Regions from separate parts of the Homo sapiens genome. Here all the other regions are linked to region 1. The links come from fine-mapping of genetic effects on gene expression. A gene starts in region 1. Each other region holds a variant in brackets. All regions are shown on one strand. Distances are between the middles of the regions.

What was found. PIP is the estimated chance that this variant, and not a neighbour inherited with it, causes the effect.
Region 2: its variant is the best candidate, but not a certain one, in a credible set for the expression of MAPKAPK3 in whole blood (INTERVAL, PIP 0.53).
Region 3: its variant is the best candidate, but not a certain one, in a credible set for the expression of MAPKAPK3 in monocytes (Schmiedel 2018, PIP 0.59).
Region 4: its variant is the best candidate, but not a certain one, in a credible set for the expression of MAPKAPK3 in whole blood (TOPMed, PIP 0.90).

What each region holds. Positions count from the first base shown.
Region 1 is chr3:50,616,076-50,618,754 of GRCh38, forward strand. MAPKAPK3 (MAPK activated protein kinase 3) reads left to right here and starts at 1,076. Exons shown (of 11, transcript NM_001243925.2): 1 at 1,076-1,166; 2 at 1,439-1,709. The coding sequence starts at 1,491. RefSeq lists enhancers at 796-1,749, 1,750-2,679 and silencers at 1,020-1,069, 1,080-1,129, 1,380-1,529.
Region 2 is chr3:50,646,681-50,649,359 of GRCh38, forward strand. MAPKAPK3 (MAPK activated protein kinase 3) reads left to right here. Exons shown (of 11, transcript NM_001243925.2): 9 at 60-145; 10 at 443-523; 11 at 1,214-2,611. The coding sequence ends at 1,366. Among named protein-coding and RNA genes, the nearest start is that of LINC02019, 21 kb to the right of the region's middle. RefSeq lists enhancers at 398-897, 2,389-2,679. The variant CA/C (reference allele first, on the strand shown) is at 1,463.
Region 3 is chr3:50,498,975-50,501,653 of GRCh38, forward strand. All of the region lies in intron 1 of CACNA2D2 (calcium voltage-gated channel auxiliary subunit alpha2delta 2), which reads right to left. Among named protein-coding and RNA genes, the nearest start is that of CACNA2D2, 3.3 kb to the right of the region's middle. The variant G/GC (reference allele first, on the strand shown) is at 1,277.
Region 4 is chr3:50,641,368-50,644,046 of GRCh38, forward strand. It overlaps MAPKAPK3 (MAPK activated protein kinase 3), which reads left to right. Exons shown (of 11, transcript NM_001243925.2): 4 at 340-404; 5 at 886-965. Among named protein-coding and RNA genes, the nearest start is that of MAPKAPK3, 26 kb to the left of the region's middle. The variant G/A (reference allele first, on the strand shown) is at 1,588.

The DNA.
Region 1 (2,679 bases):
TCCTGGTACCTGCAGTCCTGTAGATGGCCTGTAGATGACAGCAGAGGCCCATGCAGAGCCCCTGCGCTGAGCCGCACCTTCCCAGTTCCAAGTGAGCCAGCTCGCTCAGGTCCCTCAGCTTCCGGATTGGGGGAGTGATGTGATGTGCGCAAGTAGTTCAGATCTGTCCCAGAAGACAGCCACAGCCACCCTCCCTATGGCTCTAGACAAGTTGTTTTCTCCCCAGGGGTCCCAGTTTCCTCATCTGTGAAATGAGAGTTGCTTAACAGCCGGTGTTGGGAAAACTGGCTCAAAATACGTAAGGTAGTCTAAGATGGGCTTAACAGAGACTTATATGTGCAAGGCAAAACTAGAAAGCTAATGGAGAATATCTGTCACTCGGATGGGAGACAGAGACTTTTTAAACACGACGCCAAAAGCCCAAACCATAAGGTGAAATGTTGGCGGATCTGATCAAATGGCAACTCGGGATTTCTGGTCCCCAGGATGCTGTATATACCAAAGGGAAGCAGCGAGTCAAGGGCATAAGCGGGAGCTGCAAAAAGGGGGCAGTCGCCAGTGCTGGAGACTCCCAGAGCCACCAGAGACTAAAGAGTGGCGAATTCAACAACGACAAGATGCCACCTCCCTCGGCATGTTTAAAAAGTTGAGTACGCTGAGGGTTGGCCAACACTAGGCAAGTCGGAAGCCTAGCAAGCCATACTGGAGGGCCACCTGGCAGCGTGCAGAGCAAACACCCGACTCAAGGAGAGCTTTCAAGAGAAATAAGACGTCCTGCGCTGTCACGTTCTAGGTTGCGAGTAAAACCCGGGACCCGCACAGTAGCGGACTGCCAGTACAGGGGCCTCCCTGGGTGTCCCTGGAAACCGAGGAAGTAACCGCCCCCTCGGGAAGCCACGCCTCCTATTTTGTTCCGGCTCGGGGGCGGGACCCAGCCGGGGCCCGCCTGGCCCTTTAAGGCTGACCTAGCGGGGCCCCAAGTTGGGATGACGCGCAGGGAGCGGGGGGTGGAGTGGGGGAGTGGGGGAGGGGGGGGTGGGGAGGGGGGGGAGGTCACGTGGGCGCCGGCAGCGCGACTCTCGGCCCTGGGATTTCTGCGGCCGCCAGCTCCCGCGACCGCCTCTCCTGCCCCTCGCCGGTACCTCAGCAAGGTGCGTTGCCGCCAGGTACGCCCTCGCTGGGCCCCCTCTGCGGCCTCCTCCGGGGACCTCGCGGCCATTAGGCGCCCGGCCCCTTCCCTTCTTGACACGTGCCCGGGCGGTGCTCGCTTGTACCCCGCCGCGCGACCACCGCCCCTTGCTGCACGTCTGTACTCTCAGGCCGTTCGTCCCGCACTCCCAGCTTGCCCCGGGCTCGCAGCCCAGCCCAGTTCAGAGGCTCCAAGGCTGGGGTGTGTTGGAAAAGTCTGGGCGGGACTCACTCTTCCCCTTTCCCCCAGGTGCCACTAGAAGCGCCAGGCTGGGGCCGCCTCTGAGCGCCCCGCGGGGGCCATGGATGGTGAAACAGCAGAGGAGCAGGGGGGCCCTGTGCCCCCGCCAGTTGCACCCGGCGGACCCGGCTTGGGCGGTGCTCCGGGGGGGCGGCGGGAGCCCAAGAAGTACGCAGTGACCGACGACTACCAGTTGTCCAAGCAGGTGCTGGGCCTGGGTGTGAACGGCAAAGTGCTGGAGTGCTTCCATCGGCGCACTGGACAGAAGTGTGCCCTGAAGGTCAGTGAGCCCTCACTGAGGCCTGGGGTATCCTGGAGGGTCCACAGCGGAAGCCTGTGAGTGAAGCTATGTCTAGCGCCCCTGCTAAGCTTCCTATGCTCAGCAACATGTTTCATCGTCATACTGTCCTGTAAGGTCAGGCTTGTGGTCCTCCCTACTTCACAGATGGGGAAACTGAGGCGTAGCCTAGCTAAGCTTTGAGTGTCCCAGTGAGCAAGGGGTGGAGTCACTATGGCTAGAGATGCTGTATCCGGAAGCAGGGAAGGGGTGACTCCTGACTCTGGGATTCTGGCTGGACCCATGTGTTCAGGCCCAAAGGGGATCTCTTGTTCAGCTTGGCTGCCCCTTCCATGTGAAGCTCCTCTGACTGGAATGGATCTGTTTCCCTTTGCTGGAAGCTGAGACCCCACCAAGGCTTGGGTGGGACTGCTTCTTCCCTGTGGCCCCTGCCTGTCTGGGCTGGAGTGGTGTGAGCCTCCCAGGGCTGGCCAGAGGACAAGGCTGATGCCCACTGCACCTGTGGAGCCTCAGGAGGCTGCTGATAGACTCCTGACGAGTCGCTGGTCCCGTGTTGAAAGGGACAGGCCCTGGGCCAACCCACCCCTGGTTCCTGGGCAGAGGGCGGGCCAGCCATCTAGCCACCTCAGACTATAGGCTCCCTGGAGACCTGGCATGCTGATATAGGTGGCATGGTGGGGGTCAGGGGGATGCTGGGGGCGGGTACCTGGTTCCAGCTTAAGGCATACAGTTCTGGGCCTAGGGCCACACCCCATACCCAGAATCCCTTGAATCTGTCATCTCTGGGGTCTTTACTCATTTGTAGCTTGTGCCAATGGATGGGTAGAGCATGGCAGGGATAGTGGCTCCTGGAGGCTAGAAGTACAGCAAAGGCCCTTCTCATTTTACAAAAGATTTTTTTTTTTTGAGGCAGAGTCTCACTCTGTCGCCAGGCTGGAGTGCAGTGGCACAA
Region 2 (2,679 bases), 31 kb after region 1:
AGGGTGGAGGGGCTGGCTCTGCAATCTCATCTCTCCCCTCTCTTCCCTGGCCCCCCTAGCCAAGCAGCTGATCCGCCTCCTGTTGAAGACAGACCCCACAGAGAGGCTGACCATCACTCAGTTCATGAACCACCCCTGGATCAACGTGAGCCCCTCCTCCTCCCATGGCAGGCAGGGTGTCCAACAGGAGTGGGGCTGCCGGGCAGGAGGGTGGTGGCTCTGCTTTGAGGCCCCAGTGCAGGGCTGGAATGGGCCCATGCACACAGGTAGATACTAGGGCCTCACCTACAACCTGGCTTTGTCACTGCCCTAGTGAGGCTCCTTCCCCACCCTGAGCCTTGGTTTTTCCATCTGAGTCTGGGAGAAGAGGATGGAGTAGGGGGAACCAGTGCTGTCCCAGGTGCCTCCAGTTTCTAATCCACGGGCGTGGGGCTCCTTCCAGCAATCGATGGTAGTGCCACAGACCCCACTCCACACGGCCCGAGTGCTGCAGGAGGACAAAGACCACTGGGACGAAGTCAAGGTGGGTGGGCTCTGCCTCAGTCTCAATACAGGTGCCAGGATTTGGGCAAAAGGGACTTCAGGGGGGTGGCTACCCAGGGTCTGGGGTCTTTGGCCCCTTTCTATACCTGGAGCACAGGGTGTCAGTGACTGTCGCAGTGGTCCAACCATGGCACTCCAAGGATTGGGCCTCACTACGCCATTCAGTGTGGTGCTCCTGGCTCACTTCCTCAATGAAACGGGGCTTTGGTACCAAGCTTGGATGATGACCTCTCTTATAACCAACAACATTTGGGAGGGTGGTCAGCCTGGTTTAGACCCAGCAGAGGCCACGTTTGAACATATGGAGTAGCAGCTCCAGTGGCACAATCTCCAGGCCCCAGTGCGCTGGTTGCCCAGCGAGATGGCATTCTCTGCAGGTCTTGTGGTTCTGTGGTGGAACTGGTTTAGTTCACTATCCCACTTACCCTTGGTGTGGTCCGAGGGAGTAACTCTCCTTTTGTGCCTTAGTGAATAAGCTCAGTGTCTACCACAGAGGACGGTAGTGAGGATCATGTGATGCAAAGGGCTTGGCCCAGTGCTGGGCACACAGTGGGCACAGAGGCAGCACAGGCTGTCACTGACATTAAGGGGCTGCCCAGGCAGGGGGGTGATGGTTCCTAAGGTCAGTACATCCTGACCTCTTAGTGCCCACCATCCTGTCTGTCCCCAGGAGGAGATGACCAGTGCCTTGGCCACTATGCGGGTAGACTACGACCAGGTGAAGATCAAGGACCTGAAGACCTCTAACAACCGGCTCCTCAACAAGAGGAGAAAAAAGCAGGCAGGCAGCTCCTCTGCCTCACAGGGCTGCAACAACCAGTAGCTCATGGGGCCTTGGAGGAGCCTGGCCTCTCAGCCTGCATAACAGACTGAAATGTGCTCAGGCCCTGGCCAGGAGGGCCCAGGGTCATTCTTTTAA[CA/C]AAAGGATTATTTTGTTGTGTTTTAATTTGTCACTCGGAACTTCAGGATGGAGGACCCTGACCCTAAACCTCCTTCAGATCTCTGGCCCAGGCTCAAGCCCTAGAGATGGGCAGGGCCTAGGGGCTGGGAGCTGCCTGCTGCCATAGCAGCACCTTTAGCTAGGTTGGCCCGAGTGAGGCCTCTGTGCTGTCCTGCCCTGGTGCATGGCCTTAGCTTTCTAGGCCACTGGGAGTTGTGGCTGGGCTTCCCATCTTCCACAGAGACATCTCCCTGTGGGATGGGCAGATGGGCCTGGCCTTGAGAAAGGCATTGGCCATTGGTTGCCATGGTGACCAGGGACCACGTTGCTGCCTGTGAATGCTGAGTGAGCGAGTAAGGGAGGAGGGGCGATTGAGGGTTCACCTCTGCCTTGGGGAGGCTGATTTCTCACACACTGGCTGGCCCTCTCATTCTCACTCCTCCTTGGGCCCTGAGGCTGCTGGATCCGGTCTGCCTGCCTCCCTGTGCAGTCCAGCCCTGCCTTGCTGCAGCCCCAGCCCAGATGGCACTCAGCGCTCTCCCCTGAGGGAGTCCCTGGGCCTAGCCATCCCCTCACTATTCCCGACCCAAAGGGTGACTTTTCATCTGAACTTAAGGTGGGAGATATTTTTAACTTTTTTCCACTTTGGAAAATGTCACTGTGACAAAAGCCAGCATACTTTCCCTGCACCCATCTGCTCACCAGATCTCAGGCAGGAAAGCCCCTCTCTGTTGAAGTCAGGGGCTATCTTTTGGTATACTTGTGTGAAAGTGGCTGGTTGGGAGCAGAGCTAAGTGGCTTCCCATTAACCTGAGGTCTCTTTCTTTACTCTGGGTCAGACCTGAGGTTGGGGAAGGCGACTGAGCCATGCTCAGAATGTCTGGTCCTGGCTTGGGCCTGAGTAGGGCAGAGAGGGCCTTTCCTGGCTGATCAGAGCTTACCAGCCCCACCCCACCATGGTAGCCTTAGGGTGCTGAGTGCCTGATACTGCCTGACAAGTGCCTGACACGCAGCCTAGTTCCTTCCTGGCCCCTCTCTCACTGGCTGGGAAACCCTAGACCATGTCAGATAGGACAACACTGCTGGGTTTTACATCCAGATAGTAATAAACACCATTTCATCATTTTCTCTTGGCTCCTGGGTTTACTCTTTGTCTACAGGGGTGGACAAAGGTGGCCCAAGGGCAGCTTCTCAGA
Region 3 (2,679 bases), 120 kb before region 1:
CCACGGGCTCTGAGGTCAAGGCACTAATGTGGGTGAGGGGTCTGGCCTGGGCTCAGTAAGGGAGATCACCATTAGCCTGGAGACGTCCCCCACCACAGTCAAGCTGTGTTGCAGGGAGTGAGGGAGGGAGGTGGCCCAATGTCTTCCTCAAGGAGGTAGAATCTGATGTGGGTGGGCACAGCCTGAGAGAGTGGCACAGCCCAGAGCTGGGATGGGAAGGCCTCTGGAAGGTTCGGGTGTGAGACCTTGAAGGAGGGGATCTAAACCTGAGAAAAGAGCACAGTCATGGCAGGGCAGCATGAGCAAAGTAGAGAGACAGGCGGCCACCTAGCCCGTGGGAGCCCTGGAGACTGGTGGGTCTCGCAGTAAGACTGGCTACCGCCCGGCTGCAACATCTGGGCTTAATGCTAATGTTAACAGTGGCAGCCATGGCACCTGACGGAGCCCTCCCTGCCCACTAGAGGCGGCATCCTCTCCCGTTAATTCTCACCACCAGCCTCTTAAGCAGATTCTATCATTTCAATTGTGGAAACTAAGGCAAGGTCATCCCAATGGAGCCTGCAAAGTCTACACCTGACACCCAGCATGTCCCCAAACTACATCCTCCCAGGAGCTGGCAGTGTCCACCCATACACATCTGAGATGCCAGGAGCTGGCAGTGCCCACCTGCACACAGGCAGGAGGAGAAGGGGATACTTTCTGCAGAAGTCCACTTAGAGGCCAGCTTTACTCTGGAGTCAGTCTCTCCATGGGGACATGAGTGTGACAAAGAATCTGGAGTGAGATTCACCTGCAGACTACGAGGGGACTCATCCTAAAATGAGTTTCCTCCTTTCTCAGGGGTTAACCTGGCACAGCTGACCAAAAGGAGGTGCCTGATAAAGATGGAGTCCAGGGGAACAGCAGCCAAGGGTCCCCCCAAAGTCCTCCACACCAGGAGGGCTGTGAGCACCTGGCAGCTCTGCATCTCGGTGACAGCAGCAGCGGCTGGGAAGCCTCATCCCTCCCTCCTGCAAAAGCTGAGGCAGGTTTTTGGGAAGATGGGGGACCCAGATGAGTGATGCTGCCTCCCTCCAACAGGGAGAGCCACAGGGAGATGGAGACAGGGGCTGGAAGGCCCAGACAGACACACGTCACCCACCATTAACCGTAGCTACACTGACGCATGCCCTGTTGTAGGCACTGCTCCCCATGTGTCCACTCAGGAGAGGAGCACGTACTCTGGTTGTCATTAATCTGCTGGTGGTCCAAACCCCTCAGGCCCCTCACTGCTTCT[G/GC]CCCACCCTCAGAGGAAGGGAGACGCTGGCCAACACCATCGCTGGAGCAGAGCTGGGCTAAGAGGGTGCAGTCAGGTGGGCCAGCTCAGCCGGGTGCTCCACCCAGCACTCAGCCAGGACTCCACAGAGGAGGGGACAGAGAAACCTGGGGGCACTGGAGAACAGGGCACAGAGGCCCAGCAGAGAGGACAAAAGAGGCGGGCAGGGAAGGATAGGTACAGCTCGATGAAAGACCTGAAGAAGGGGGACAGGGGAAGAGGGAGGGAAAGACACAAGGGGAGGCAAAGCAGTGAGGGCTGCCCCTCAGCCGGCGGTGGTGGCCTGATGCTGGGGAGGGCATAACTGGAAAAAGGAGGCAGGTGAAAGGTGTGCTCGGACTCAGGTCCCCCACACCCAGCCGGACAAGTGCACATACATGTGCATACATGTGTGCAAACATGTAGCCTCCTCCTTGTTTGAAACTCTGATCCAGGTCCAGGTAAGGTGAGACAGCCCAACCCCCCCACCCCCCGCCCAAAAAAAAACCCTGAAGCCCTGTCCTCCCTTCAGCAGTAACCCCTCTGCCCTTCTCAATCCAGCAGCAGCCTTGGTCCATTTTGCCTGGTGGGCAGAGAGCCATGCTGCCAGAGCGATTGCAGAAATCATAGCTAGCAGACCCCAAACCCACACTTGCTTAAAATCCAGCAGCTTGTGAAGCTGGGCCCCTGTGCACTGGCAGACACTAATGAGAAAATGACTTGCTCATCAGGGGCCTTCCCCACTGAGGGGTTGTCACTCCAGTGCCATGAAGCTGGGTTCCACTCTCCTCCTTGGAAATCCACCTGTATCAAAGTGTCATCCCAGCCTGGCCACACTGACCCAGCAGAAGGTTCTGGGAGGTCACCCATCCCTGAGCAGCCCCACAGAACCTTCTGGCCCGAACAACAGCCTAAACCTTTCTTACCAGTTCAACAAAAGCACCAATTCCACTGGCCATGGTCATGTGTGGGCCCCTTCCTCCCTCCAAGGATCAATGTGCATCCTCGTCTGCGGGACCAGGGCAGCTGAAGGGCACTGGCTGTCACAGCAAACCCTCTGTGTTGTTGTACCATTAGTCACCTCCCCCTGGACCCTCAGAGCGGCACAGCCCCCACCCCACCCCCACCCTCATTCTCTAATTACAGTTTGCAAGACATGTCCCAAACCCCCAAATTAGCTCCAACTATATCGACAACAGCGTCCAGCTGGAAGTGTGTCGCTGCCGTCACACCCGCCTCGCCATCTTCTGGCTGGGGACAGAGGGATAGGTGCCTACTCTGGTCAGGTTCTCACATCGGCCTTCTAGAGGAGACTCGTGCAGGCCCAGAAGCCATCTGACCAACTGCACGTTGCAGGGAAAGGGAGTGAGGTCGGGAGAGGTGGAA
Region 4 (2,679 bases), 25 kb after region 1:
TCTCATCCCACATTTGGGGAAACAGAGACTTGAATGGGGTTGGGAGTACCCAAGCCCTCACAGTCAGGTAGGGGCCGTGCCACTGGGAACACACAGGCTTCTTGGCAGGGATCAGAGCCCACCACCCTCTTCTAGTTCCAAGAGTTCAGTTCAACCCACCTAAGCTGACAACCCACCATGCACCAGGTTCTACAAGGGACAGGGAGGCTGACAGTGGCTGTTCAGTAGGGGAGGAGCGGAGCAGCAGGGTCTGAAGCCTGGGCCTATGATTTGGGGCAGGGGCAAGGGTAGGATGATGTGCAGTTTCCCCCTCTCTGCTTATAGTCACCTCTTTTACAGCATGGAAGGTGGTGAGTTGTTCAGCAGGATTCAGGAGCGTGGCGACCAGGCTTTCACTGAGAGAGGTATGTGCATGTAGCTGGACCAGCAGGAGGATTCAGGGTGAGAGGTATGGACCAGAGCGTTGTGTGTGATGCTAGGCAAGACCCTGTTCCTCTCAGTCTTCCCATCTGAATAAGAAAGGGTGAGACTCAGTGTCCATCCCCACAAGGGACTCTCTGAGTCTGAGACACTTTGTCGAACTTGGACTCTCTATGGCTTTGGGATGGAGGCCTCAAAGCCTCTTGATGCTGTCTCGCAGTTGAGCTGGGGAGAGGTAGCTCAGGACTGAGGAAAGAAGTTTAGATGGGTTGGGGGTATCCTCGGAGGAAACTGGGGTGTCTGGGGTGGCGTAGACATCCCGGGATAGAGAACCTGGATAGCAGGAGTGCTGTCACTGTCTTCTTGTCTTGTGCTGGCCTGTTAGACTGTGTCCAGGAGGGATGATAGGGTGGGGGCTTGACCTTTGACTGGCATCACTGACCCCCTCCTCCTCTGTTTCTGCAGAAGCTGCAGAGATAATGCGGGATATTGGCACTGCCATCCAGTTTCTGCACAGCCATAACATTGCCCACCGAGATGTCAAGGTGAGGCTCCAGGATTCAGGTTGGGGGCCCGGGGAAGAGGATATTGTCCCACTCCACAATCCCTGATGGCATCCAGGACCCACTGGATGGAGGCCATGTTCCCTAGTCACATTCAAAGCCTCTGCTCTGTGTCCCAGACTGCTTTTCTCAGCCTCTTCTCTAGTTTCAGCATACTCATTCTGTTCTCACCAGGTGGGTCCCCTTGCTTCTTTCAAACACTGAGTAATCCAAATAGTAATAAGAATAACTGACTGCCTGCCTAAAGCCAGCGGGCCCTGACAAGCAATCTCATTTCATTCTCACCCAGCCTTGTGAGATAAGTGCCATTACCCATTTTACAGATGAGGAAAACAAGGCTCAGAAAAACATTAAGTGACTTGCCCAGGGGCTGTGTAGTTGCTGCACTGGGATTCATTCATTCATTTGTTTACTTGTTCAGCAAGAAATTTTGTGTGGATGCAATGTGCCAGGCCTCAGGCAGGGGCTGCCTGATGCTGTTGGTTTTTTTTGTTTTGTTTTATTTTGTTCTGTTTTTTTGAGACAGAGTCTCACTCTGTCACCTAGGCTGGAGTGCAGTGGCGCAATCTCGGCTCACTGCAGCTTCCGCCTCCCAGGTTTAAGC[G/A]ATTCTCCTGCCTCAGCCTCCCAAGTAGCTGGGACTACAGGCGCACACCACCACACCTGGCTAATTTTTGTATTTTTCGTAGAGATGGGGTTTCACCATGTTAGGCAGGTTGGTCTTGAACTCCTGACCTTAGGTAATCCGCCCGCCTCGGCCTCGAAAAGTGCTGGGATTACAGGCGTGAGCCATTCCACCTGGCCCTGTTGCGGCTTTTGTGAAGTCACAGCCATAGCTTTGACAGATCAGGCCCCCTGATACCAGCATTTTAAGGGAAAGAAGCCATTTGCTGAGCCCTGGAGGAAGGAACAGAGGTAGTGCCAGTTGTTGGGCCACCTTCCAGTCTTGAGGCTGGAAGCTCAGCTCTCCAAATTTCCTATCCTGGGAGGACTGGGTCTTAGAGGTCATCTGGATCAGATGGATGAAATGCAAACCAAGGCAGCACACACATGCATGTGCACACAAGCATGTGTGAGCACTATCAGAGCAGAGTCTGCTCCTCCTGGGCCCTCTGCCCCAAGCCTAGAACGTTACCTTCCTTGGCTTATTTCCTCCTCAGACTGGGCAGAGGCGAGCTGAGGTTACAGCTGCTGCATAAGGTCCTCCCTCTGGCTGAGCACCCCAACCTGTAAATCCTTGCTTTATTTGGACCCTGGCTTTTTTTTCCCGAAGAGAGAAAAGCCTTCTGCAGAGGAGATTCCCTTGAATAGACTAAAACTGCTTCTCTGTTTTTATCACAATTGAGAAGGTCAGATCTTCTCAAATGGAACCTGAGAAATAGCATCCATTGGTTCTAAACCACCACCCCATCCTTCTACCAACACCCCATCCTTCTACCCCGGCTCTGCTTGGGGGTCTCTTCTGCCCCTCTCCATGGGCCTACATCCTACCTACCATTCATTAAAAACCAGTTTCAGGGACAGACCTCCCTACTGCCCTCATCTGCCAGGCCCCTGGCTACTCCTGGGACACAGGAAGATTGCCCCTGTGCAGCTCCTGGGGTCTGGGGTCTGAGCAACCAGGGCCTTCTCCCCTGAGCAACCTCAGATGGGGCTGTCCTTCTAGCCCTGTAGGATTCACTCTGGGCTGGGTATGGGA